Homo sapiens: one gene and its partners. The protein of the gene in region 1 interacts with the protein of each later gene in a pairwise test. Each region holds a gene or a part of one and is shown on either strand. Other genes may lie near its edges.

Evidence for each region.
Region 2: the proteins of EVI5L (region 1) and KRT79 interact in binary tests that used the Homo sapiens proteins (3 or more experiments, as listed by UniProt).
Region 3: the proteins of EVI5L (region 1) and RAB10 interact in a two-hybrid assay, tested with the Homo sapiens proteins (one study listed by BioGRID).

The regions. Positions count from the first base shown.
Region 1 is NC_000019.10:7,846,757-7,854,957, forward strand, and holds part of EVI5L (EVI5-like protein), read left to right. Parts: intron 1-975; coding exon 976-1,165; intron 1,166-2,164; coding exon 2,165-2,389; intron 2,390-2,499; coding exon 2,500-2,574; intron 2,575-3,240; coding exon 3,241-3,366; intron 3,367-4,677; coding exon 4,678-4,821; intron 4,822-4,924; coding exon 4,925-5,014; intron 5,015-6,329; coding exon 6,330-6,427; intron 6,428-6,516; coding exon 6,517-6,577; intron 6,578-8,201. UniProt on the Homo sapiens protein: Functions as a GTPase-activating protein (GAP) with a broad specificity.
Region 2 is NC_000012.12:52,824,000-52,832,200, reverse strand, and holds part of KRT79 (keratin, type II cytoskeletal 79), read left to right. Parts: intron 1-574; coding exon 575-795; intron 796-1,908; coding exon 1,909-1,969; intron 1,970-2,082; coding exon 2,083-2,178; intron 2,179-7,838; coding exon 7,839-8,003; intron 8,004-8,188; coding exon 8,189-8,201.
Region 3 is NC_000002.12:26,106,255-26,114,455, forward strand, and holds part of RAB10 (ras-related protein Rab-10), read left to right. Parts: intron 1-3,513; coding exon 3,514-3,652; intron 3,653-8,201. UniProt on the Homo sapiens protein: The small GTPases Rab are key regulators of intracellular membrane trafficking, from the formation of transport vesicles to their fusion with membranes.

The DNA of each region.
Region 1 (8,201 bases):
CATTCAGAGCCAGGCCCAGTGTGTGCAATGTGACAGCCACCTCCAGATGCTGGATGAGGGACAGACACCTCCTTTCATCCTCCCAACCCTGGCTGAATATATGTGTCCCCACCCTGTTCAGATGAGACTGAAGGTTTGAGAGGTCAAGTGAATCTGTGAATCCGCCGCGGTTAATGGAGCCAGGACTGGAGGAAGAGTCGATTCGGGCCTTCCTGCTTTCTTCCTCTGACCCTACCCCCATTTAAAATGCAGGTTTTAGGCTGGACGTGGTGGCTCACACCACCGAACACTTTGGGAGGCCGAGGCAGACGGATCACTTGAGGTCAGGTGTTTGAGACCAGCCTGGCCAACATGGTGAAATCCTGTCTCTACTAAAAACACAAAAATTAGCTGGGCATGGTGGTGGGTGCCTGTAATCTCAGCTACTTGGGAGCCTGAGGCAGGAGAATCACTTGAACCCGGGAGGCGGACGCTGCAGTGAGCCAAGATCACGCCACTGCACTCCAGTCTGGGCAACAAGAGCAAAACTCCGTCTCAAAAAAAAGGGGGCGCTGAGGGCAGTGGCTCAAGCCTGTAATCCCAGCAGTTTAGGAGGCTGAGGCAGGTGGATCACCTGAGGTCAGGAGTTCGAGACCAGCCCGACCAACATGGTGAAACCCCATATTTACTACAAATATAAAGTTAGCCAGGTGTGGTGGCATGCACCTGTAATCCCAGCTACTCAGGAGGCTGAAGCAGGAGAATTGCTTGAACCAGGAGGCAGAGGTTGCAGTGAGCTGAGATCACACCACTGCACTCCAGCCTGGGCGACAGAGCAAGACTCCATCTCAAAGAAGAAGAAAAAAAAAAGAACAAGAGGGACCTAATCCCTGGTGTCCTCTAAGACCCCCAGGAGGGGGAGGATGGGCTGGGCTCGCCAAGGATCCCTGTCCCCAGGGAGTCACTGGTTCCCCTCTGTCGGCCCTTCCTGCCCAGGCTCCTGGAGGCCGACTCCAAGTCCATGCGCTCCATGAATGGCTCGCGGCGGAACAGTGGCTCCTCGCTAGTGTCCAGCTCCTCGGCCTCCTCCAACCTGAGCCACCTGGAGGAGGACACGTGGATCCTGTGGGGCCGGATCGCCAACGAGTGGGAGGAGTGGCGGCGCAGGAAGGAGAAGCTGCTCAAGGTGGGGGGCGGCCAGGCAGGCAGGGCTGGGCCGACGGCGTGGGCAGGTGGTGCGGTCACTCAGCCACCAGGCAGCGCCAGGGTCTGCGGGGCCCCAGCCTGGGCACAGCGGCAGCAGTGGAGATGTGCAGGCACTTTCAGGGTGTCCTGCCAGAGCACAGGGACAGGAGAGAGTGAGTCAGGGTGGTGCTGGACAGGCCCTGCACCCTCGAGTGCCCATGTGCTTGCTGCCCTGTAGTGCCCATGAAGGATGGGGGTGTGGTGGCTCACGCCTGGAATCTCAGCACTTTGGGCGGCCAAGGTGGGAGGATCGCTTGAGGCCAGGAGTTCGAGGCCAGCCTGGGCAACGTAATGAGACTCCGACTCTATAAAAAGTTTAAAAATTAGCCAGGTAGGCCGGGCGCAGTGGCTCACGCCTGTAATCCCAGTTCGTTGGAAGGTCGAGGCAGGCAGATCACCTAAGGTCAGGAGTTCAAGACCAGCCTGGCCAACATGGCGAAACTCCGACTCTACTAAAAATACAAAAATTAGCTGGGCGTGGTGGCGTGCACCTGTAATCCCAGCTACTTGGGAGGCTGAGGCAGGAGAATCACTTGAACCTGGGAGGCAAGAGGTAGCAGTGAGCCAAGATCACGCCACTGCACTCCGGCGTGGGCAACAGAGTGAGACTCCATCTCAAAAAAAAAAAAAGTTTAAAAATTAGCCAGGCGTGGTGGTGCACAACTGTAGTCCCAGCTACTCAGGAAGCTGAGGCAGGAGGATCGCTTGAGCCCAGGAGTTCAAGGCTGCAGGGAGCTATGATCGCACCACTGCACTCCAGCCTGGGTGACAGAGGGAGACCCTGTCTCTGAAAAAAGGGGGTAAAAAAAGGATTGGGGACCATGAGTTCTGTGCCATGCTTGAGGCCTGGATGAGCCACGCCTGAGGAGCTGGGCTGGGTGGCCACGGGGAGGCTGCGCTGGGACCGAGTCCAGCCCCCGCTTCCCGCTCCCGTGGCCAGGAGCTGATCCGCAAGGGCATCCCCCACCACTTCCGGGCCATCGTGTGGCAGCTTCTGTGCAGCGCCACGGACATGCCCGTCAAGAACCAGTACTCCGAGCTGCTCAAGATGTCCTCGCCGTGCGAGAAGCTGATCCGCAGGGACATCGCCCGCACCTACCCGGAACATGAGTTCTTCAAGGGCCAGGACAGCCTGGGCCAGGAGGTCCTCTTCAACGTCATGAAGGTGAGGCCCAGGGCTCCCCGCTCCCTCGGTCCCAAAGGAAGGAGAAGTTCCCCAGTTCACCGGCTGTGCTGGACGGCGGGACCCTGCTCTCAGGACTTGTTCCCTTCTAGGCATACTCGCTGGTAGACCGGGAGGTGGGCTACTGCCAGGGAAGCGCCTTCATCGTGGGCCTGCTCCTCATGCAGGTAGGTGGCTGGGGGGTGGCTGGGCTCCTGCCAGACAACAGCCCACCCTGGGCTCGGCCCCCAAGAGATGGACAGAAGTGGCGTGTCCTCCACCCAGCGTCTTGCTAGGGGTAGATCCTCCTTCTCCATCCACACCCGTGACCTCTGCCAATCGCCAGGCCAAGGCCCAGTGAGTGGCACCTGTCTGGTTGGGTCCTGTCTGCTGTACCATCCAGGACAGAGACCGGGTTTGGAGGGATAGGCTGTCTCTCTCTGCCACATCTCAGGGTTGGACAGGAACCTCAGGCTGGGGACTTAAGCCATCCAGCGTGGTGTTTATGGGGCTTGGGGGTCTCCTCCAGAGAAATCGGGAGGCTGACAGGGAGAGAGGACGCAGCTGGGACAGGAGGTATCCTAACCAGGGGGATGCTGGCAGTGGCCAGCCCTGGGTTCAGGTCCAGCTCCCCTGTTTCCTGCCGAGTGGCCCTTGGCAGGTGACCTCAGCCTCAGGTCTTCCATCAGTAAAACAGCTTGTGAGGACACAGGGACCAACAGTGTGTCATGAGAGTCTAGGGAGCCAGGTACCGACATGGACATGGGCCCCTGTACCCCAGGGCCCTGATGAGCAGCGAGATGCCCCTCCCCGCTGCGCTGCCCTGAGCCCCCCCACCTGCCCGTCCCCCCTAGATGCCTGAGGAGGAGGCCTTCTGTGTGTTCGTGCGGCTGATGCAGGAGTACCGGCTGCGGGAGCTCTTCAAACCCAGCATGGCCGAGCTCGGGCTCTGCATCTATCAGTTCGAGTACATGCTGCAGGTGAGCAGGGCCGCAGGAGAGCAGGGCTGCAGGAGGGCAGGGCCACAGGTGGGCAGGGCCGCAAGGGAGCAGGATCGCAGAAGGGCAGGGCTGGCACCCTAGACCATACCCGGGCACCTCTTGGACTGAAAATTCCAAGCCTGTGAAATCACACCTGGACGTTCCAACTCCAAAAGGCACTCCTCTTTCCATGCAGCACTGCCCTGAAGGATGCTTGGAGGAACAGGAGAGCCACCACTGAAGGGGGGCTCCCAGGGCTGCTGAGGCAGAGGGGTGGGGCAGGCTCACATCGGACACAGCCACAGCCACCTCCCTGTCTGCTCCAGAGTGTGGTGGAAGGAGGGAGTGTTGTCTGCCTGCCTGATTACTGGAGAGCCGCAGACGTCTGTTTATAAATAGCAGCCCCCGCAGGGCCTGCTCCCGGCTGGCAGGCAGAGCCGCCAAGGCCGTTTGCGAACATACACACACCCGCATGCATACACACACACGCAGACACACACACACACACCGGCCCGCCTCAGCTGCCATGGCAGGTGGGGCTGTGCAGTCATCCCTGGATGTGACAGCCCCACTCCCTGGGCCTGGATCATGGACGGTGCTGTAGCCTTAGGGGGCCTGGTAGTGCCACAAGCAGGAGGCCTGGGCTGCAGAGAAGGCACCACCCCACCTCAGGCTGGGTAGCAGAGCCCTCCCACAGCCAAGCTTGCAAACTCAGGGCGCAGAGAGCCCCTGGCGCTGGGAGGAAGCCCGGGATCCTAACGCCTTCTCCGGCCTCAGTTTCCCCAGCCGTCTGCCACTTTCTGGCTGTCTAGAGTTCAGGCCAATCCAACACAGCTTGCACAAAGCTTTATGCTGGGGTCCAAGGGAGGTACAGTGGCTGGCAGGTCACGTAACAAGGTGGGGGGGGGGCTCCCCCCAGGGCCAGAGGCTGCCACTTGCCCATGCTCCACCTCTGGGTCTCAGGGTGTCTGTGGGGAGTGACCCAACTCCCCCAGCCTCAGACACACCCTCTCAGGCTGTCGTGAGGACCCCATGAGCTGCCACGGGCGCATCACCTACCCAGGGTGGGCCCCCAACACAGGCGGCTACAGATCTTGCCATCCCTGCCTGTCCCCCACCCCGTGCTACTCAAAGCTCGGGGGTGCTTCGGCCTCCCTCAGACAGAGTGCTGAGGGAGCACCAGGAAGGGAGCCTCAGGCTGCCCAGCGCAGGTCCAGGAAGGCTCCCTGGAGGCGGGGACACTGAGGCCCAGCACCCCCCGGTGGGAGGGCGTCCCCCTCACTGTGCCCACCCGGCCTCCCACCCCTGCAGGAGCAGCTCCCAGACCTCAACACCCACTTCCGTTCCCAAAGCTTCCACACATCCATGTATGCCTCGTCCTGGTTCCTCACACTGTTCCTGACCACCTTCCCACTCCCCGTCGCCACCCGGGTCTTTGACATCTTCATGTATGAGGTGAGGACCGATGGTGCCTGGGGAGGGAAGAGAGCCCCTTGGGGGTGGTTGGAACAGGAGCCTCCCTGCCCTCCACCTCCCACTGCCTTTGCCGCCTTTGCAGGGGCTGGAGATCGTGTTCCGAGTGGGCCTCGCCCTGCTGCAGGTGAACCAGGCAGAGCTGATGCAGCTGGACATGGAGGGGATGTCCCAGGTGGGCCGGGAGGGCCAGGGCCGGTGGGGCTGCCCCCAATCAGGGGCTTCGAGTCACAGGATGCCCTCACAAGTGACAGAGAGGGCCCGGCTTCGAGGGTGGAAGGTGGTGTGCCTGACATCCCTGATCTGTTCCCATCCACTCTGTTCCCCTGAGGTCTCCCTAAGGGACCAGAGGACCCCCTAGGCTCTGCCAGACACAGTCAGGGGCCAGCAGCCTGGCCGCAGGGAGACAGGAGGCCCAGGCTGAGCCCTGGGAGCCCCACTGCCCACCTCCTGCCCCCAACCCCGCAGATGCCCCAAAGCCTGATGGCAGATCATGACTGACTGACCATGAGGGCATCCCCACCCTGCCGCCCAGCCTGGTGAGGGCACAGGAGGGAGTTTGGGGGTCTAGGCAACCTCACGCCTTGCCCCGCCCCAGCCCGGCCTGCCTGGAGGCCCTGCTGCTGGCCAGCCTGCCTCCCACCGCTACTTCTCTGCTGTGCGGGCCCCTGCCCCCTCCCCGCGTCCTCCAGCTGGTGCTTCAGGGAAGAATGCACAAAGGCCACGGTTGTGTCCGTGAACATGGGCAGGCATTGTCCACAGCTACCAGAGGGGGCCAGCTGGGCCGGGTGCAGGAGCTGTGTCCCCCCTGGGCTTACCTTAACCCTTTGCACAGGCCCGAGGCCCCCGGCATACCCATCCTCCTTCCCCCACGAAGGTCCCCTCTGTCAGACCCCCCGACCCTCAGCCTTCACTCCCAGGAGAGCCTCCTTGGCCTGCTTTTCTTTTTTTCTTTTACCTTTTTCTTTTTTTTTTTAAGTCGGAGTTGCTCTGTGGCCCAGGCTGGAGTACAGTGGTGCAGTCCTAGCTCACTGCAGCCTCCACCTCCTGGGCTGAAGCGATCCTCCCGCCTCAGCCTCCTGAGTAGCTGGAACCAGAGGTGTACATCACCATGTCCAGCTAATTTTTTTTTTTCAGAAATGGGGTCTCACTATGTTGCCCACACTGGTCTCAAACTCCTGGGCTCAAGCTATTTATTTCTCCCACCTCAGGCTTTTAAATCATTGGGATTATATGAATGAGCCACCACATCCAGCATCTGCCAGCTTTTCTTCTGGAAACTAAGGCTTTGGCTGCAGGCAGTCCCCCATTCCCTCCCCTCACGCTCAGTCTTTCCATTGCTCCACAAACACTGAGGACACGGCGTTGAGGACATGGCGACACCCCGGGCAGACCCGTTCCTGCCCCCCTCCAGGGCAACAGGGCTCGGGCGGCCCCCGGTGGTCAGGGCCTGCATGTTGGTGACCAGGTGACCGGCTGTGTCCCCACAGTACTTCCAGAGAGTGATCCCCCACCAGTTCGACAGCTGCCCGGACAAGCTGGTCCTCAAAGCCTACCAGGTCAAGTACAACCCCAAGAAGATGAAGAGGTCGGTGCCTGCTGGGCAACCAGGGTACTGGTAAGAAGGGGGGACCCCCGAGGGCATGACAGTAACCACGGGGCCCTCCCGATCTGCAGGCTGGAGAAGGAGTACGCAGCCATGAAGAGCAAGGAGATGGAGGAGCAGATCGAGATCAAAGTGAGTCCAGGGGCCCAGGGGCGGGGACAGGGATGGGAGGCCTTTGGGGGCTGCCCTCCGTACTCTAAAGATCGGCCGCTAGGGGGCGGGCCTTCCCAGCGCACAGGCGGACCCGGCGGTCCTTGGCGGACAGGCCTCCGCCCACCTGCGCCGTCCTTCACCTGTTAGGCCAGCTGTGAGCGCCTCCCCCGCCTGACGCCGCGGTAACCAAGACAGTCAAGGTCCCTGCCCCGCTGGGCCGCCCAGCGTCATGGGGAAGCAATCAATAAACCACTGAACTAGAGTGCGGACTCTAAATGCTCTGGACAAGGATGTGCACGCGGTGGGCAAGGCTGACTTGGGCAGAGGCTCCGGGCCCAGGGTGTCGAGGGCTAAAGGCCCAGGGCAGCAGCGTGCCTTGGGGGCTGGAGGAATTCCAAGAAGGTTGCAGTGGAGGACCCCGCAAGGGGACCGCCCTCTGGGGAAAGATGGAGCACGCAGGGCCCAGACACCAGGGTGTGTAGGGCAGGGTGTGGGCACTCACCCGGGGCCCCTGGTTCCTGGGGCAACTGGCCCACCAGCCCTGCCAGGTCAGGGGGTTTCCTGAGTGTGCAAAGCTTCTCTCTCCTTCCTTGCGCATTCTTCCCTTTACACGTGATTTTAGTTATTTACTCAACAAGCATTTATTGCCGGGCGCGATGGCTCATGCATGTAATCCCAGCACTTTGGGAGGCGGAGGCAGGTGGATCACTTGAGGTCAGGAGTTCGAGACCAGCCTGGCTAATGCAGTGAAACCCCGTCTCTATTAAAAATACAAAAATTAGCTGGGTGTGGTAGCACACACCTGTAATCCTGGCTACTCGGGAGGCTGAGGCAGGAAAATCACTTGAACCCGGGAGGCGGAGGTTACAGTGAGGCAAGATTGTACCGTTGCACTCCAGCCTGGGCGACAGAGTGAGACTGTGTCTCAAAAAAAAAAAAAAAAGAAAAGAAAAGAAAAAAAACATTTATTGAGCACCTGCTGTGTGCCAAAGTCACAGCTGAGACTGAGGGCGCACCAGTGATAGGAAGGGACACAGACACAAACCCAACACAGCCTGGCTCCATGCTCTTCAGGGGCAGAGCCGCACAGTGGCTAACACTGGAGTCCAACAGACAAGGATTCAATTCCAGCTCCAGCGGCACAGTGGCTCACACCTGTAATCCCAACACTTTGAGAGGCTGAGGTGGGAGGGTGGCTTGAGGCCAGGAGTTGGAGACCAGTCTGGGCAACATAGCAATACCCCGTCTTTACAAAAATATAGAAATAAATACAAAAGGTGTGCCCAGCTCCTGCAAGGATGGCTGTGCTTGGTGCTGTGATGGGTTGAAGCCAGAGAGATGATAGGGAAACCCAGGGGCCAGGGATCAGGGCTCCAGATTGCTATGAGGACCAGAGACCTGAAATAGCTCTGACCCAGCTGAACTGAGGGACTAGGGCAATGCCCTGCCCCACTCTGACTCAGTTTCCCCACATGACATGCATCAATGACTGTCAAGTCTGCGGTTCTGTCTGACTGCATTTGCTTCCTGGGAATGTTCTAGGTGTTTCCATCACCTTTTCTCCCCAGAAGAAACCCAGGAAATATTCTGTGTGACCTGCAGT
Region 2 (8,201 bases), on another chromosome or scaffold:
CATCTCTTGGGCTCAAGTGATCCTCCCACTTCAGCCTCCTGAGTAGCTGGGACTACTGGTGCATGCCACTACACCTGGCTAATTGTCTTGATTTTTAGTGGAGACAGTCTTGCTATGTTGCCTAGGCTGGTCTTGAACTCCTGAGCTCAAGCACTCCTCCAGCTTCAGGCTCCCAAAGTGTGTGATTTTAAACAGTTGATTTACATTTTAAACAGATGATTTTAATGCAGAATTAGGGGTCAGAAACATAGATCTAGTCCAGTTTATGCAGGACAAGTGAGAGAGGGAGACTCAGAGAGAAATGATTCGACCAAGGTTACCAACTAGTAAATTGGTACTGCTACTGAGCTGGGCTTTTGTGCTTATTAACTTGGTAGAGTTCTTTCCATCAGATTGGACGGTCGTTTCCAGCAGTCTATTCCCCTAAGGAGTGCCTCCCCACAGCAAAGTGTAGGTGCGGCTGCAGCGTCCCTATGTTGCCCTGGCCTTGGAGGGGAGGTGGCAATGGACCCCATCCTTGGCTCCTCTGGTGACCGGAGGGTGACATCAGCCCACCCTTTCTGCTCTGGCTCAGGTGCGGTTCCTGGAGCAACAGAATAAGGTGCTGGAGACCAAGTGGGCACTGCTGCAGGAGCAGGGCCAGAACTTGGGTGTCACCAGGAACAACCTGGAGCCCCTCTTTGAGGCCTACCTGGGTAGCATGCGGAGCACGCTGGACAGACTTCAGAGCGAGCGGGGGAGGCTGGACTCAGAGCTCAGGAACGTGCAGGACCTTGTGGAGGACTTCAAGAACAAGTGAGGAGAGCAGGCCAGGCGGGGCCATGTGGGAGTGAGGAGGGGCAGTGGGAAACCTGCCAAGAGGGCCACCCCATTCCCAGGGTCCCAGGCCCACCTGGGGGATGCACAGACAGAGCTGGCTCCCTCAGGTGCTCAGGTCCAGCACCTGCTGCCACCTGGAGAATTGGCAGGTTTGTTTGTAATTTAAAAAAGTTTTTAAAGTAGGGGGAATAGTATAATGAACCCCATGTTCCTGTCACCCAGCTTTAATCATTATCAACTCATAACCAATCTTGTTGCATTTTTTACACCTCCCCACTTCCCTTCTTCCCGTGTAGTCTTTTTTTTTTACCTTTGCCTTTTTCTACGTGTTCTGATTCCCTTGTAGTCTTGAAGCAAATCCCAGACATCTTGTCATTTCATTCACTAATATTTTACAAGTTATATTCATATATCTGCATGTGAATGTAGTTCATCTATGACTCAGTAAAACATACAGTGGCATAATCACACCTAAAAAATTTTAAAACAATAATTCCTCAATATCATTAAATATCCAGCCAGTTTTGAATTTCCAGTGACCCCATACATGTCATAAATTTAAAAAATACAGCTTATTTGACTCAAGCTCCAAAGGTTTATATATTATAATTGGTTGATATGCGTATTTATAACTTTTAAACACGCACATTTAAAAATGACTTTTCCCATAAATTGACCATGGCAATTTCTAAACCTTAAAATCTCATCAAAAGTGGTTGGGGAGGAGTTAGCTGGTTTGAATGACACTGTGTTGTTGAAAGTGATGGTAAAGGTCAGCCACTGTTGACACATCTTCACTTGTCCCTCTAAAGCCTCCTAAGGGCTTGGATCCAAAGAGATGGCAGCTCTTGATTGCCATATTATTGCACAAATTCTGTGCCTCTTTCCCTAAAATGGGGTGGGGAGAGAGAATGTTTAAATCAAGGCAGACCCCATGTTTCTTCACTGGTTGGCTACATTAAAGAACTGCTCCCCAGAGGTGTTCTTGATCAGTGAGGGACCCATCAGGGCTTCTGTAAGGCTGAGTGGGTCCCATGCCTGAAAGGCAGAGCCAGGCTGAGCCTGGCCTGAGTCTCCCATGTGTAACAGGTACGAGGATGAAATCAACAAGCACACTGCTGCAGAGAACGAGTTTGTGGTGCTCAAGAAGGTGAGCCGAGTGGAGTGGGGGAGGTGGTCCTTTGGCTGCCAGGGTACTGGGCTGATTCGGGGAGAGGGGACATCCCTGGGGCCTGAGGATCTGTCTTGCTCTCTCGTCCCCAGGATGTGGATGCAGCATACATGGGCCGGATGGATCTGCATGGCAAAGTGGGCACCTTGACCCAGGAGATTGACTTCCTGCAGCAACTCTATGAAATGGTGAGGTGGCCAATGGGCAGGGAGAGTTTGCATACACTATAAACAGCACTGGGCGTTTTCCATGGAGGTCTGACCTGAATTCACCAGTGCAACCTCATTGGTGGAAGATGAAACCTTAACACTTTTTTTTTTGAGACGGAGTTTCGCTGTGTTACCCAGGCTGGAGTGTAGTGGCACAGTCTTGGCTCACTGCAACCTCTGCAAAGCGATTCTCCTGCTTTAGCCACTGGAGTAGCTGGGACTACAGGTGCCTGCCACCATGCCCAGCTAATTTTTGTATTTTTAGTAGAGATGGAGTTTTGCCATGTTGGCCAGGCTGGTCTTGAACTCCTGACCTCAGGTGATCCACCCGCCTTGGCCTCCCAAAGTGCTGGGATTACAGGCGTGAGCCACCGCACCCAGCCTAAAACCTTGACACTTTAATTAATACTAGCTTCAACTTATTAAGTGCTTTTGATGGGCCAGGCACGGGGGCAAACTTTTAACATAATCTTCTCAATAACCCCAGAATGCAAGAACTATTATTGTCTCAATTTTATAGTCAAGGACCCTGGGGCTCAGAGTTGCTCGTGGTCACATAGCTAGGAAGAAGCATGCTAGAATTCAAATCTGGCTCTTGAACTCCGAAGTCTGACTCTTACCACTGTTATATTGCCCTCTTCCTGCCCGGTTTGTAATGGAGCAAGGGATGAGGGAGCAGGAATGGGCAGAGAGGAGGGACTGGGATTCCAGATTGGAGTAGAAGGTGAGGCGTGGGTAGATTAAAGAATCCAGGAGGGGTTCCAGGAGACAAGAGGGCTTTGGAGACTAGAGTGAGAGGGTTGAACTTAACATGAATTGACCGCAGAATCACAGACTCTTAGGGTCCGCAGGGACCTCAAGACCAACCTTCCATCCAGTGCAAGAACAATTTCTATGATATCCCTGACATAACCCTATCATATGTAACCTCTACTCAAATACTTCCTGTGGCAGTGAGCTCACTACTTTTTAGGGCAGGCATTACCATTGTTGAACAACTTCATTAGAGCACTGACTTGAATCTCCTTCTCATGACTTCTGCCCTTGACTTTGCCCAATTGTCTTCTTGTGACTTATGCCTTTCACATGATAGCCCTTTAGAAGTCATGATGATGACAGGATAAAAATCTGTGGCATGTGAGGACGTTCAGGAAACAGGGCTTTTAGTGAAGTATTCAGAAGATGGAGGGGTGGGGAGGGAGGTTCCAGATACAAACTTCTATTGATGCAGCCTAATAGTGCACTAGTTTATGTGTTGTTTTAGAAGTTGTTTCACAACGTTGGCTTTCTTAGAACCCCTTCTGGACTTTTTCACATAAATGCTTTCAAATGAGACATGTATCTACTCTCCTCCAACTTCCTGTATGTGGGTAGCTGAATTTTGCAATTGAGTGGAACAGTTAACCATTCCCTTTCTTTCCTATGAAATGCCACTGTGGTGTCATCCCAACATTTTAAGCTATGTGGGCTCTTAGTAACTTGATTCTTTTATCCAGTGTATTAGTGATGCATAGCTTTGTGTTATCTGCAGGTGGGATAAACTTTCAGTCTAGGTATTTGATAGCATCTCAGTGTAAATCATTGATACACATGTTAAGGCAATCAGGGCCTAAAACAAAGTCCTGTGGGTCTTCAGTGGTGATTTTCCAAGGGACTGTTAGTCTGTTAACCAATAATTTGTGGTTAAAGAGCCTCAGCTACTTTAAAATCCCCTTAACAGTACTGTTACCAGGATCACATTTTTCTGTCTTCTTTCAAGAATGCTATGGAAGGCTTGGTCAGACATTGTCTATGGCAGGCCTTTAGCAGTTTAATATTATAATCATGAAGGAAAATGAAATCCACTTGGTTCCACTTTTCCTTAGGGAACCCATGATGGCTTCATGCCTCTCACACACATTTAGGAATTCATTCTATGGGTCTGGAGGAGGTTGATGTCAGCCTTATTTGAAAAATTCCAAATCTCTCCCATTTGAAAATCAGGCCATTTGCTGCGTTTGGGGTTTTGGGGTCTCCTCCTCTCCATATCTCTCAAGGATGACCAGGGCGTTCCTTCCCTTGGCAGTCCCTGGAGCCTCTGAGTGTATGCTTTTCTAGCCTGGATCCCTGTGATCTCCAACAAGGCCAAGGTCTCTCATCTACCCTGTCTTGGGTTCCCATTTCCTCTCAAGCATATTTCTTGTGCTTTCCACTTTGATGACCAGTTTGTTCTTGATGGAAAAGAGGCAAATGACAAAGCAGCTGAGCGATTGGCCTTTCCTGGATCTTCTGTAGGGATCAGCCCAAAGGGACCTCCGTGTTATTTCTGCCTAGAGTTCATCTAGCAGCCTCTGACCCCTGGCTTTGGTGTTTCCCGGGCTTATCCTTGGCTGGATTGCTTGCCTTCCAGCATCTCTGCACGGCCTGTCTGGATGGAACTTACTGGGAAGTTTTCTGGGCTGCCATGCTGAGTTTTTAGGTGCTTCCCCAGTTTCTACTTTGCCAGGGTCATTGATAGTCATTCATGGTCTGGGGCCTCCTTGTGGTCCATTAGGTTCCATTCTCTCTCCCCCTCTTTTCTGAATGTTTAGGAATTGGCTTTTCTTTGGTCTAAGGACATGGCTGGCATACTCAGCATTCCTTTCCATTGCTATGCCTTGTTTATTTAACAAACATTTACTGAGCACCTTCCACATAGCAACAAAGACAAAGTCTCAGCTCTTGTGGGGCCAGGTTATCAAGTGATGAGAGCTGTGGGGGACAGGCACAGGTGCAAAGGCACATGGGACGCCATGGCTGACCCTTCCTGGGAGGGCTGCGGAAGCCTTCGAGGGAGGTGACTTCTGAGTTGGATCTTGATGGAAGGGCTAGACTTCTAGAGGAGGAGCAGGAAGGACTTGGCAGCCTGGGGCCCAGCCTGTGCAGTGTCATGGAGGCATGAAGGAACATGGTGCTTGGGGACCAGTGGGTGGTGAGTGCCCACATCGAGTGTGTGGGCACAGTTAGGTGAGCAGGAGGCAAGGGAAAGAGTGGTAGGGACCAAGCCTGGGCCCTTTCCTGTCAGAGGTCCTCACGGCCCAGCAGTGCCTCCGTGGGGTGAGAACAAGGATCAGCACAATTGTTCTGTTGCTGCCTCATGGGCTCGATCAGTCACGGAACCAGCATGGCTCTCAGTAACCAATGCCATGATCTGGTTTTGGCCAAGCCAGATCCCACGGCAATCTGGGGGATGAACCACCTATCACTGGGTGTCTCATAGGGCAGGAAGGCAGCCTCCATGGTGGCCTCCCTCTGGCCTGGGGCATCTGTGGAACCCAGTCCCTCTTCCGCTTGTGCCACTTCTGCCCGCTGGCTCCCTTTACCCTTGCCTAGAAGTCTCCACTGTCTTTCCCCCTTAGAGTCCCTGGTGTCTAAGGAGACACACACCTTAGCGATTCACAGAGCTCTTTCTGCTCTGATTTCACGAGCTCCCTTTCATCGGAAAGCCTGACTTTTTTTTTTTTTTTTTTTGAGACAGGGTCTCATTCTGTCACTCATGCTGGAGGGCAGTGGCGCAATCACAGCTCACTACAGTCTCGACCTCCTGGGCTCAAGCGATCCTCCCACCTCAGCCTCCCAAGTAGCTGGGATTACAGGCGCACGTCACCATGCCTGGCTAATTTTTGTATTTTTTGTAGCGACAGCATTCACCATTTTCCCCAGGCTAGCCTTGAACTCCCAAAATGCTGGGATTACAGGTGTGAGCCACTGCACCTGGCCAAGCCTGACCTTTCTATCCCCTTGTTCCAGCAAGACCATTGCATCACCTCATCCACTCTTGATGCCATCCAGTGGAGAGATTTTGCCTCCTTGTCTTAAAAGTTTCGGGTTGATTTTCCTGAGGACTATGCTCTGACATGGGGCTAGAGACCCTGAGCTAAGGAGGGCAGGGGCAGGATGCGTCAAGATGATGCTGACAGTTCATCTCGGTGGGGAAGGAGACAAAGCAGCTGTGACAACACAATCTTATCTGTGACAAATAGACCTTATGGGCACCTCCAGTGGCCTTCAGAGAAGTCTGGGAAAGTAAGAATGCACTTTACTCAGCACATGCCATGGGTCATACATGGATCTTAAGCCCCACAACCACCACAGGAAGAAAGTATGATCAGGCCGTGTTACAGAAGAGGGAACTGAGGCATCGCAAGGCTCAGCTGCTACATCAGCTACACAGCCAGTGCGTGTTAGGCTGGGGACTTGATCTCAGGCTTGTCTATCTCCAAAACTCATATCTTCCCAAAAACCACAAGTTTTTGTAGTGACTAGATTGATTGCATCTCTAAACTCCTCATCCCACTTTTTGAAAGACAATCTAATTTAACAATCTACATCTACATCAGTATGGATATCAGTTTTGCCTTTGGTATTTCTCTTTTCCCCCTGTCTCTCTTTGTTCCTGCCTATCTCTATTTTAGTCTACGTCCTCTCAGCTTCTGATGTCAGACTCCTGGGGTTTGAAACTGAGCTCCTCACTTACTGGCTTGTGATCTGGGCCAAGTTACTTAATCTCTTTGTGCTACTGGAAAAGGGCATGTAATGAGTTAGTACCTGCCACATGCCTAACACAGAGCCTGAATCACAGTGATGCTCAGCATGCGAGGGTTGTTATTATTATTCTATTATAATTCCCTGGGCTGCCATGAAGGGCCAGTGTTTGAGAAAGGATGGAGACAAGACCAGGATATGGGAGGTGTTGGGTTTTAGGGGGAAGGTTCTCCACCTATCAGGGAGCCTCTGAGGACTACTGAGTGAATGAGTGATTTGTCAGAGCTGGAGTTTAGGGCATTCTATGGGCAGCCCAGAGCAGGAAGGACCATGGGAGAGATGGAGGCAGAGCCCCACGTGGGAGCCATCACAGTCCTGGCCCAGCGATCCCACTGGTCCCAAGGCCAGAACAGAGACCTTTGATTCCCCATCACCTAACCCGCCATTCACAGCATCCTGAAGCCTACTTATGTGTGAAGGACGATGGTTCTAGAAACAGGAGGGCCCAAGAACATCAAGACAGTCTATACTTTTCAGTGTGCTCTAGAGGAAACCACTTGGGCTTTGTGGTGCAATTGACTGGTCCCAGGCTGGGTCCCACCCTGGACCTGGTGCCCTTGGATGCATCACTTCTCCTCTCCAAACCTCTTTCCTCACTTGTCCATGGTCAGGACTACTGTGGATGGTGGTGCAGTTGGTGACTTGGCTGGTGCTGGACATGCTGTTTCCACCTGAAGGGGTGTCTTTCCCCAATTTGCACAAAGGCACCCTGTGAGCCTGCCATGGGCCTGCCAGCTGCACAGGGTGTTCTGAGGCCTAGAGGGGTTAGTGAATGTGCTAGCACAGTGCCGGGCACCAGTGTTAGTGCAGAGAGTACACATTCTCTTTACCCTCTCTAATCTTTTGGAAGCCTGCAAACCCATAAAAATAAATGAAGTCTGTAAAAATGGGAGCTTCATTTTATAGCTGGGGAGACTGAGGCCTTTCCTTGCAGTTTTCCTTACTTTGCTCTAGGCTGGAGCCTGGACAAGAGCACAGGCCTCCTGATGCTACCTGGGGGCCCATGTCCTTCACCCTCTGATGCTTCCTGGGGCCTGGAGCAGGGGTGCTGGTGGCAGCTGTCTCTGATTCTTCAGGAGCTGAGCCAAGTGCAGACCCACGTGTCTAACACCAATGTGGTGCTGTCCATGGACAACAACCGCAACCTGGACCTGGACAGCATCATCGCCGAGGTCAAGGCCCAGTATGAGCTGATTGCCCAGAGGAGCCGGGCTGAGGCCGAGGCCTGGTACCAGACCAAGGTGAGAGGCATAGCTGGCTCAGGTGTGAGGCCTGGGGTCGGATCAGATCTCCCATCGTGAGAGGCTTGGGCCTCTGGGACCCTTGGAGTCCGGGGGGCCAGATATACTCAACTTGCATGGGGCCTCCAGCTGTGAGGGTGGGCTGGGGCCATTTGAAAGCGCACTGCCACTTCTTTGGTCCCCAGTATGAGGAGCTGC
Region 3 (8,201 bases), on another chromosome or scaffold:
TTATATGGGAAGGCTAGGGTAGCTAAAACAATTTGACAAAGTAAAATAAGTGGGAAGAATCAATCTATCTGGTTGTAAAGCTTTTTATTTAACCATAGTAATCTAGGACAGTATGGTAATGGAGGAGGCCTAGACACATAGGAGATTGCAACAGAATAAAGAACCCAGACACAGATTGAACTGTGGTATGGCCTGCAGATTTTTGACAAAGGTACAAAAGCAATTCAATGGAGCAAGGTTATTACTTCGACATTTCAAGCAAATGGTGCTTGAGCAATAGGACATTCATAGAAATGTCCTATTTGAAATTAACTCAAAATGTACCATCGGTTTAATAAAACCATAAGGTGGCCGGGCACGGTGGCTCACGCCTATAACCCCAGCACTTTCGGAGGCTGAGGCGGGTGGATCATCTGAGGTCAGGAGTTTGAGATCAGCCTGGCCAACATGGCAAAACCCCGTCTCTACTAGAAATACAAAAATTGTCCAGTGTGGTGGCACACGCCTATAGTCCCAGCTCTTTGGGAGGCTGAGGTTGGAGAATCTCTTGAACCCGAAAGGCAGAGGTTGCAATGTGCCGAGATCACACCACTGCACTCCAGCCTGGGCGACAGAGCAAGACTCTGTCTCAAAAAAAGAAAAAAAGACCCATAAGGCTTTTAGAAGAAAATACAGGAGAAAATCTTTGGAACATAAGACTACGTGAAGAGGCTGGGTGTGGTGGCTCACGCCTGTAACCCCAGCACTTTGGGAAGCTGAGGCGGGCAGATCATCTGAGGCCAGGAGTTCAAGACCAGCCTGGCCAACATGGCGAAAACCCATCTCTACTAAAAATATAAAAATTAGCTGCATGTGGTGGCACGTGCCTGTAATCTCAGCTATTCCAGAGGCTGAGGCAGGAGAATCTCTTGAACCTGGGAGGCGGAGGTTGCAGTGAGCCAAGATCGTGCCACTACACTCCAGCCTGGGCAACAGAGCGACACCCTGTTTCAAAAAAAAAAAAAAAAAAAAGACTAGGTGAAGAATTCTTAGACATAACACTAAACACATGATCTGTAAAAGAAAAAAAAATCAGTAAATTAATTAGACTTTCACAAAATTAAAAGCTTCCTCTCTACAAAATACCCTGTCAAGGGAATGAAAAGACTAGCTACAGACTTGGAGAAAATATTTACAAGCCAGTGTATCTGACAAAGGACTTCTGTATAAAAAGAACTTTCAAAAGTCAGCAGTAAAAAGACAAAAAAACTGACAATCCAGGCCAGCCACGGTGGCTCACGCCTGTAATCCCAGCACTTTGGGAGGCTGAGGCGGGCTGATCACCTGAGGTCAGGAGTTTGAGACGAGCCTGGCCAACATGGTGAAACCCCATTTCTACTAAAAATACAACCGTTGGCTGGGCGTGGTGGTGGGCGCCTGTGATCCCAGCTACTTGGGAGGCTGAGGCAGGAGAATCACTTGAACCCAGGAGGCAGAGGTTGCAGTGAGCCGAGACTGTGCCATTGCACTCCAGCCTGGGCGGCAAGATCGAAACTCTATCTCAAAAAAAAAACCCCAAAAACAAAAAACTAACAATCCAATTAGAAAATGGGCAAAAAAAAAAACCAGACATTTCACCAAAGAGGACATGTGGATGGCAAATAAACACATGAAAAAATGTTCACCATCTTAGCCACAGGGAAATACAGATTAATGTGATGATGAAATATTACTATGTGCCCTCTTAGAACTACAGAAATAAAAAAGTGACAGCATCAAATGCTGGTGAGGATGCAGAGAAACTGGATCTTTTATATGTTGCTAGTGCAAATGTCAAGTGATAGAGCCACTCTGGAAAAAGTTGGCCAGTTTCTTACCGTTATACACTTACCATATTACCCATAAATAACATTCCTGGGCATTTATTTCAAAGAAATGAAAAATTATGTCCACATAGAAACCTGTAAATGAATATTCTTCGAACTTTGTTATAGCCAAAAACTGGAAACAACCCTGAATGTCCTTCCATGGGTGAATAATTAAGCAAATTGTGATACAGACATACCATAGAATGCTACCCAGCAATGAAATGGGACAGACCAGGATTATGTGCAAAACTTGAGAGGACTTCAAGAGCATTATGGTGAAAGAAGTGTTAAATGCCGATTTCAAAAGGTAGCATACTACATGATTCCACTTACGTAACATTCTGGAAATGAAAAAAATATAAACATAGAAAACAGATTATTGATCAGAGTTTAGGGACTATGGGGAGTAAAGAGGTGATGTAATAGTTCTTTGTCTTGTGGTAGTTACACAAATCTGTACATGTAATAAATTGTAGAGAACTATATATACACACATACACAAATAAGTGCATGTAAAAAAAAAAAACCCTGAAATCTTAATAAGGTCTGTAGATTGTATCCAATGTCCATTTTCTGGTTTTGCTATTATGCTGCAGTAATATAAGATGTTATCATTAGGAAAAGCTGGGTGAAAGGTACCCAGGACCTCTCTGCACAGTTTTGTAACTTCCTGTAAGGCTGTAATTATTTCAAAATAAAAGTTTTAAAAATATTAACTCGAAAGAGGAGCAGGGATAGTTGGAGAGATACAGGGTTGAGATTGGGGTCTTTTGCTTTATATTTATTTATTTATTTATTTATTTATTTATTTATTTATTTATTTATTTTGAGACGGAGTCTCGCTCTGTCACCCAAGCTGGAGTGTAGTGGCACCATCTTGGCTCACTGCAACCTGTGCCTCCTGTGTTCAAGCAGTTCTCTTACCTCAGCCTCCCGAGCAGGTGGGATTACAGGCACGTGCCACCATGCCGGGCTAATTTTTGTATTTTTAGTAGAGATGGGGTTTCACCATGTTGGCCAAGTGTCTTGAACTCCTGACCTTAAGTGATCTACACGCCTCAGCCTCCCGAAGGGCTGGGATTACAAGTGTGAGCCACTGCGCCCGACCTTATTTTTGCTTTTTTAAAAAAGATACTAAAACATGTTTGTAAGCTGATGAGATGATCCATAAAAGAGCAAAATGATGATACAAATGAGAGGGCATAGTTACAGGAGCAAAATACATCTTACACCTTTGGCTTTAAGCATTAAATAATGGAAAATACTACTATTTACATTTCTGTCTTATTATTTATAAGTGAGGTTATCTTTACAACTTTTGGTTAATGATTCTAAATGTAAATATGACTGTACTATGGTATAGTTCTCTAATGTTCTAAAAATCCTACCTGCTTTTGTGTTACATTATGGAACTAAATTATTAAATAAAATGAAATTTTAAGAGTTTCTATGGTGTTTGCTAGTGCTTATTCAATAAACTTGAGTTTTATGTGTCACTTCCTACTGTTTTCCCTTTCAGATTTTCATCCAGTATGGGTAGGTTATTAATTTCCTTCAACTAAAAAGTTTTTATATATACTTAGGAAAAACTATTCTTGTTTTGTCCTTTATGTGAAATGTAGTAATATCAAAATGCTTAATAGAAATTATTGGCTGTTTATTTCAGGGATACAGCAGGCCAGGAGCGATTTCACACCATCACAACCTCCTACTACAGAGGCGCAATGGGTATCATGCTAGTATATGACATCACCAATGGTAAAAGTTTTGAAAACATCAGCAAATGGCTTAGAAACATAGATGAGGTAAGACCTAGAACTTGTATAAACCCTTCATGAACACACATTTGTGTGCTTGGTTAGGAAGAATAAATATTCCAACTGATCTTCAGGATATAATGTACTGTTGAAGTCATTATTATTGAAGTATTTCTATTTTCTAAAAGTTAATGTTGGCCGGGCATGGTGGCTCATGCCTGTAATCCCAGCACTTTGGGAGGCTGAGGTGGGAGGATCACCTGAGGTCAGGAGCTAAAGACCAGCCTGGCCAACATGGTGAAACCCCATCACTACTAAAAATTATAAAAATCAGCTGGGTGTGGTGATGTGCACCTGTCGTCCCAGCTACTCAAGAGTCCAAGGCAGGAGAATCTCTTGAACCTGGGAGGTAGAGGTTGCAATGAGCCAAGATTGCGCCACTGCACTCCAGCCTGGGCAACAGAGCAAGACTCCGTCTCCAAAAAAAAAAAAAAAAAAGTTAATGTTGTTATTTGCTAATTTTTTCTTAAGTTTTTGGACAGTCTATCTAGAGCCCCATTCAAGACAATTAGTAAATTACTCCAAAACTCTGTATAGCCATCTTACAAGATGACCCCAAATAGAAGCTACCAGTGATTTTACAATGATTTTCTGGAAATGAATTTTTTCTTAATAAATTTTTATTGAATGAATGAAATGTCCGGTAGTAATTTTTTAAAACTTTATTTTTCATGTTATAGAAATATAATATTGCTTCTAGGCATTTTGAAATATATGGAATACTAATATAGTAAAAACCTAACTAAGAAAATAGTTCCATTGCATGTGAAAATGTTGTTTTTTTTTCTGTATTTTGGGTTTTTTTGAGATAGAGTCTCACTTCATCACCCAGGCTGGAGTGCAGTGGCACAATCTTGGCTCACTGCAATCTCTGCTTTCTGGGTTCAAGTGATTCTAGTGTCTTAGTGTCTTGAGTAGCTGGAATTACAGGTGTGCACCACCACACCCGGCTAATTTTTGTATTTGTAGTAGAGATGGGGTCTCGCCATGTTGGCCAGGCTGGTCTTGAACTTCTGGCCTCAAGTGATCTGCCCACCTTGGCCTCCTGAAGTGCTAGGATTGCAGGCATGAGCCACTGCACCCAGCCTGATGTTACTTTTTATAAGTTAAAATTATGTATCAAAGCATGTCTGTTTCTTTGCTACAGCATAGGTGGCTTCTTGTTAAGAGTTGTTTTTCATGCCTTATTGCTACCTTCTAGGCTTTGAGTTTTGTTAACAGTAACTCTTTGAAGCAAATTTTGGCCAGATACACAAAGACCAAGTCTTAAACCAATATTAGACCCAAGATAATACCCCTAATGGTAGCAATCCTAAGGGCTCATTACCACTGTTTTGTTGCTACAATAAATCTTTGGGAGAAGCTTATTATTTTTTAATAATTATTTAAAGATACACAGATCTTGGCTGGGCGCGGTGGCTCACGCCTGTAATCCCAGCACTCTGGGAGGCCGAGGTGGGCGGATCACCTGAGGTCAGGAGTTCGAGACCAGCCTGACCAACATGGAGAAACCCCGTCTCTACTAAAAATACAAACTTAGCTGGGTGGGGTGGCACATGCCTGTAATCCCAGCTACTTGGGAGGCTGAGGCAGGAGAATCGCTTGAACCCAGGGGGTGGAGGTTGCAGTGAGCTGAGATCACGCACCATTGTACTCCAGCCTGGGCAACAAGAGCGAAACTCCATCTCAAAAAAAAAAAAAAATACAAATCTTAAAACAAAAAAGCTTTATTTTGATTTCCTTATTCTTTATTTTATTGTTCAGGTAAGTAGTCTGTAGTAAGAGCAGTTTAGAGATTCTGCAGTGTGTTTCCAACAACCACCAATTCTCTGATTCTACCACATGAACTGGTGTCCTGCTATTCAATGCTATTCTGACACTGACTACCCTGAATTAGTATCAGACTCCACAAGTTTAAGGACTCATTCCTACAAAATTGCCCTCACTTGAGATGCCATTTGCAAGTCCTGGGTCCCCAGGCTTACCCACATTTCTGCCTTCTGTCCAAGCTGGCTATAGATTTTGGGGATGCCAACAATGCCACTCCATGTGATCATTTGCTAGGGTGAGTCATAGAACTTAGGAAAATGCTATACTTGGGATTACAGTTTCATTATAAAGTATACAATTCAGGAACAGCCAAATGGAAGAGAGGCATATGTGGGGAGTAGCGGCAGGGCTCCAGAGCTTCCATCCCCTCTCTGGATACGCCACCTCTCCCAGCACCTTGATGTGTTCACCGAATTGGAATATTCCTTACCCTCAGTTTTTCAGATTTTTGAATTGAAGTTCCATCACTTAGGCATAATTGATTAAATCATTGACTTCTGGTGATTGAGTGTAATGTCTGTCTCCCTTCCCCTCCTAGGAGGTCAGGAAGTGGGACTGAAATTTCCAATCCTCTTATCACTTGGTTGGTTCCTCTGGAGACCAGCCCCCATTCTGAAGCTAGATAGGAGCCTTGTCATCAGTCACCTCATTAGCATAAACTCATTATAGTCAAAAGAATCTTGTTATGAATAACAAAAGACAACCCTGTCACTCAGGAAATTGGGAGGTCAGTGACAGGAACTGGGAACAAAGACCTAATATATGTTTTTATTATACCGCAGACTTAAACATCTGACATGGTAGACTGGATGGTTTGTTTCCCAAGATAAACTGAGAAACATACAACCCAGGTATCAAAAAGGAAAATTGTGGGTGTGGTGGTGTACACCTGTGGTCCCAGTTACTTGGGAGGCTGAGGCAGAAAGATTGCTTGAGCCCAAGAATTCAAGGCTGCAGTGAGCTATTATCATACCACTGTGCTTCAGCCTGGGTGACAGAGTGAGACTCTGTCTCTGAAAAAGAAAAGAAGTTATTTAAAAAGAAAATCTTGGCCAGGCGCAGTGGCTCATGCCTGTAATCCCAGCACTTTGGGAGGCTGAGGCAGGCGGATCACCTGAGGTCAGGAGTTTGAAACCAGTCTGGTCGACATGGTGAAACCCTGTCTCTATGAAAAACACAAAAAATTAGCCGGGCATGATGGTGGGCACCTGTAGTCTCAGCTACTCAGGAGGCCAAGGCAGGAGAATCACTTGAACCCAGGAGGCGGAGGAGGTTGCAGTGAGCCAAGATTGCACCACTGCACTCCATCCTGGGCAGCAGAGTGCAACTCCGTCTCAAAAAGAAAGAAAGAGGAAATCTTGTTTCTCTGGTGTATTAAAGGATTATATAACATGATCAAGAGGAACTTACCCAGGAATGCAAGGGTCAGAACCTGTCAATGTAATACACCATATTAATAGACGACAAAACCATACAGTTATCTCAGTTCACACAGAAAAAACATTTGACAAAATCCAACATTCTTTTATGATTAAAACAGTCAGCCAAACGCAGTGGCTCACACCCGTAAATCCCAGCACTTTGGGAGGCCGAGGCAAGTGGATCACCTGAGGTCAGGAGTTCGAGACCAGCCTGGCCAACATGGTGAAACCTCGTCTCTACTAAAAATACAAAAATCAGCCAGGTGTGATGGCAAACACCTGTAACCCCAGCTACTCGGGAGGCTGAGGCAGGAGAATCGCTTGAGCCCAGGAGGTGGAGGTTGCAGTAAGCCAAGATCGTGCCATTGTGCTCCAGCCTGGGCGACAGAGCAAGACTCTGTCTCAAAAAAAAGTCAACAAACTAGGAATAGCAAAGAACTTCCTTAATCCTGTAAGTGACATCTATAAAAATACCACAGCTATTATTGTACCTGTCCCCTAAGATCAAGAGCATGGCAAGAATATCTACTCTGGCCACTTCTGTTCAACATTATGCTGAGTTCCAGCCAGAGCTAAAAAAAAAAAAAAAAAGAAAGAAAGAAAAAAAGCCATCCAGAGTGAAACAACTATTTATAAATGGTAGAATATTTTATATAGAAAATCCTTAAGAACCCACAAACATATACCCAGAAAACTCTTAGAACTAATAAACAAGTTCAGCAAGGTTACAAGAAATGAGATCAACATATAAAAATCAGCTTTATTTCTGTACACTAGCAATAACCTAAAAATTACATTGAGAATAAATTTCCATTTGTAATAATATCAAAAGGCAAAAAATACTTAGGAGTAAATTTAACCAAAAGAGTGTAAGACTTGAACACAGAAAACCACAAAATATTGTTGAAAGAAATTAAAGATCTAAATAATTAGATAGCCATTATTTGTGAATTGGAAGACAATATTAAGATGGCATTACTACCCAAAGTGATCTACAGATTTAGTGCAATCCCTATCAAAATCCCAATTGCTTTTTTAAAAATTCCCCCCCGTAGAAATTGACAAATTGACCCTAAAACTAATATAGAAAGGCAAGGGACCCAGAGTAGCCAAAATAATCTTGAAAAGGAAGTACACAGTTGTAAGATTTATACTTTCTGGTTTTAAAACTTAACCGCAAAGCCACAATAATCAAAACACTGTGATACTGACATAAGGATAGTCATAAAGATTGATTGAATAGTATTGAGAGTCTAAAAATAAACTCTTACATATATGGTCAGTTG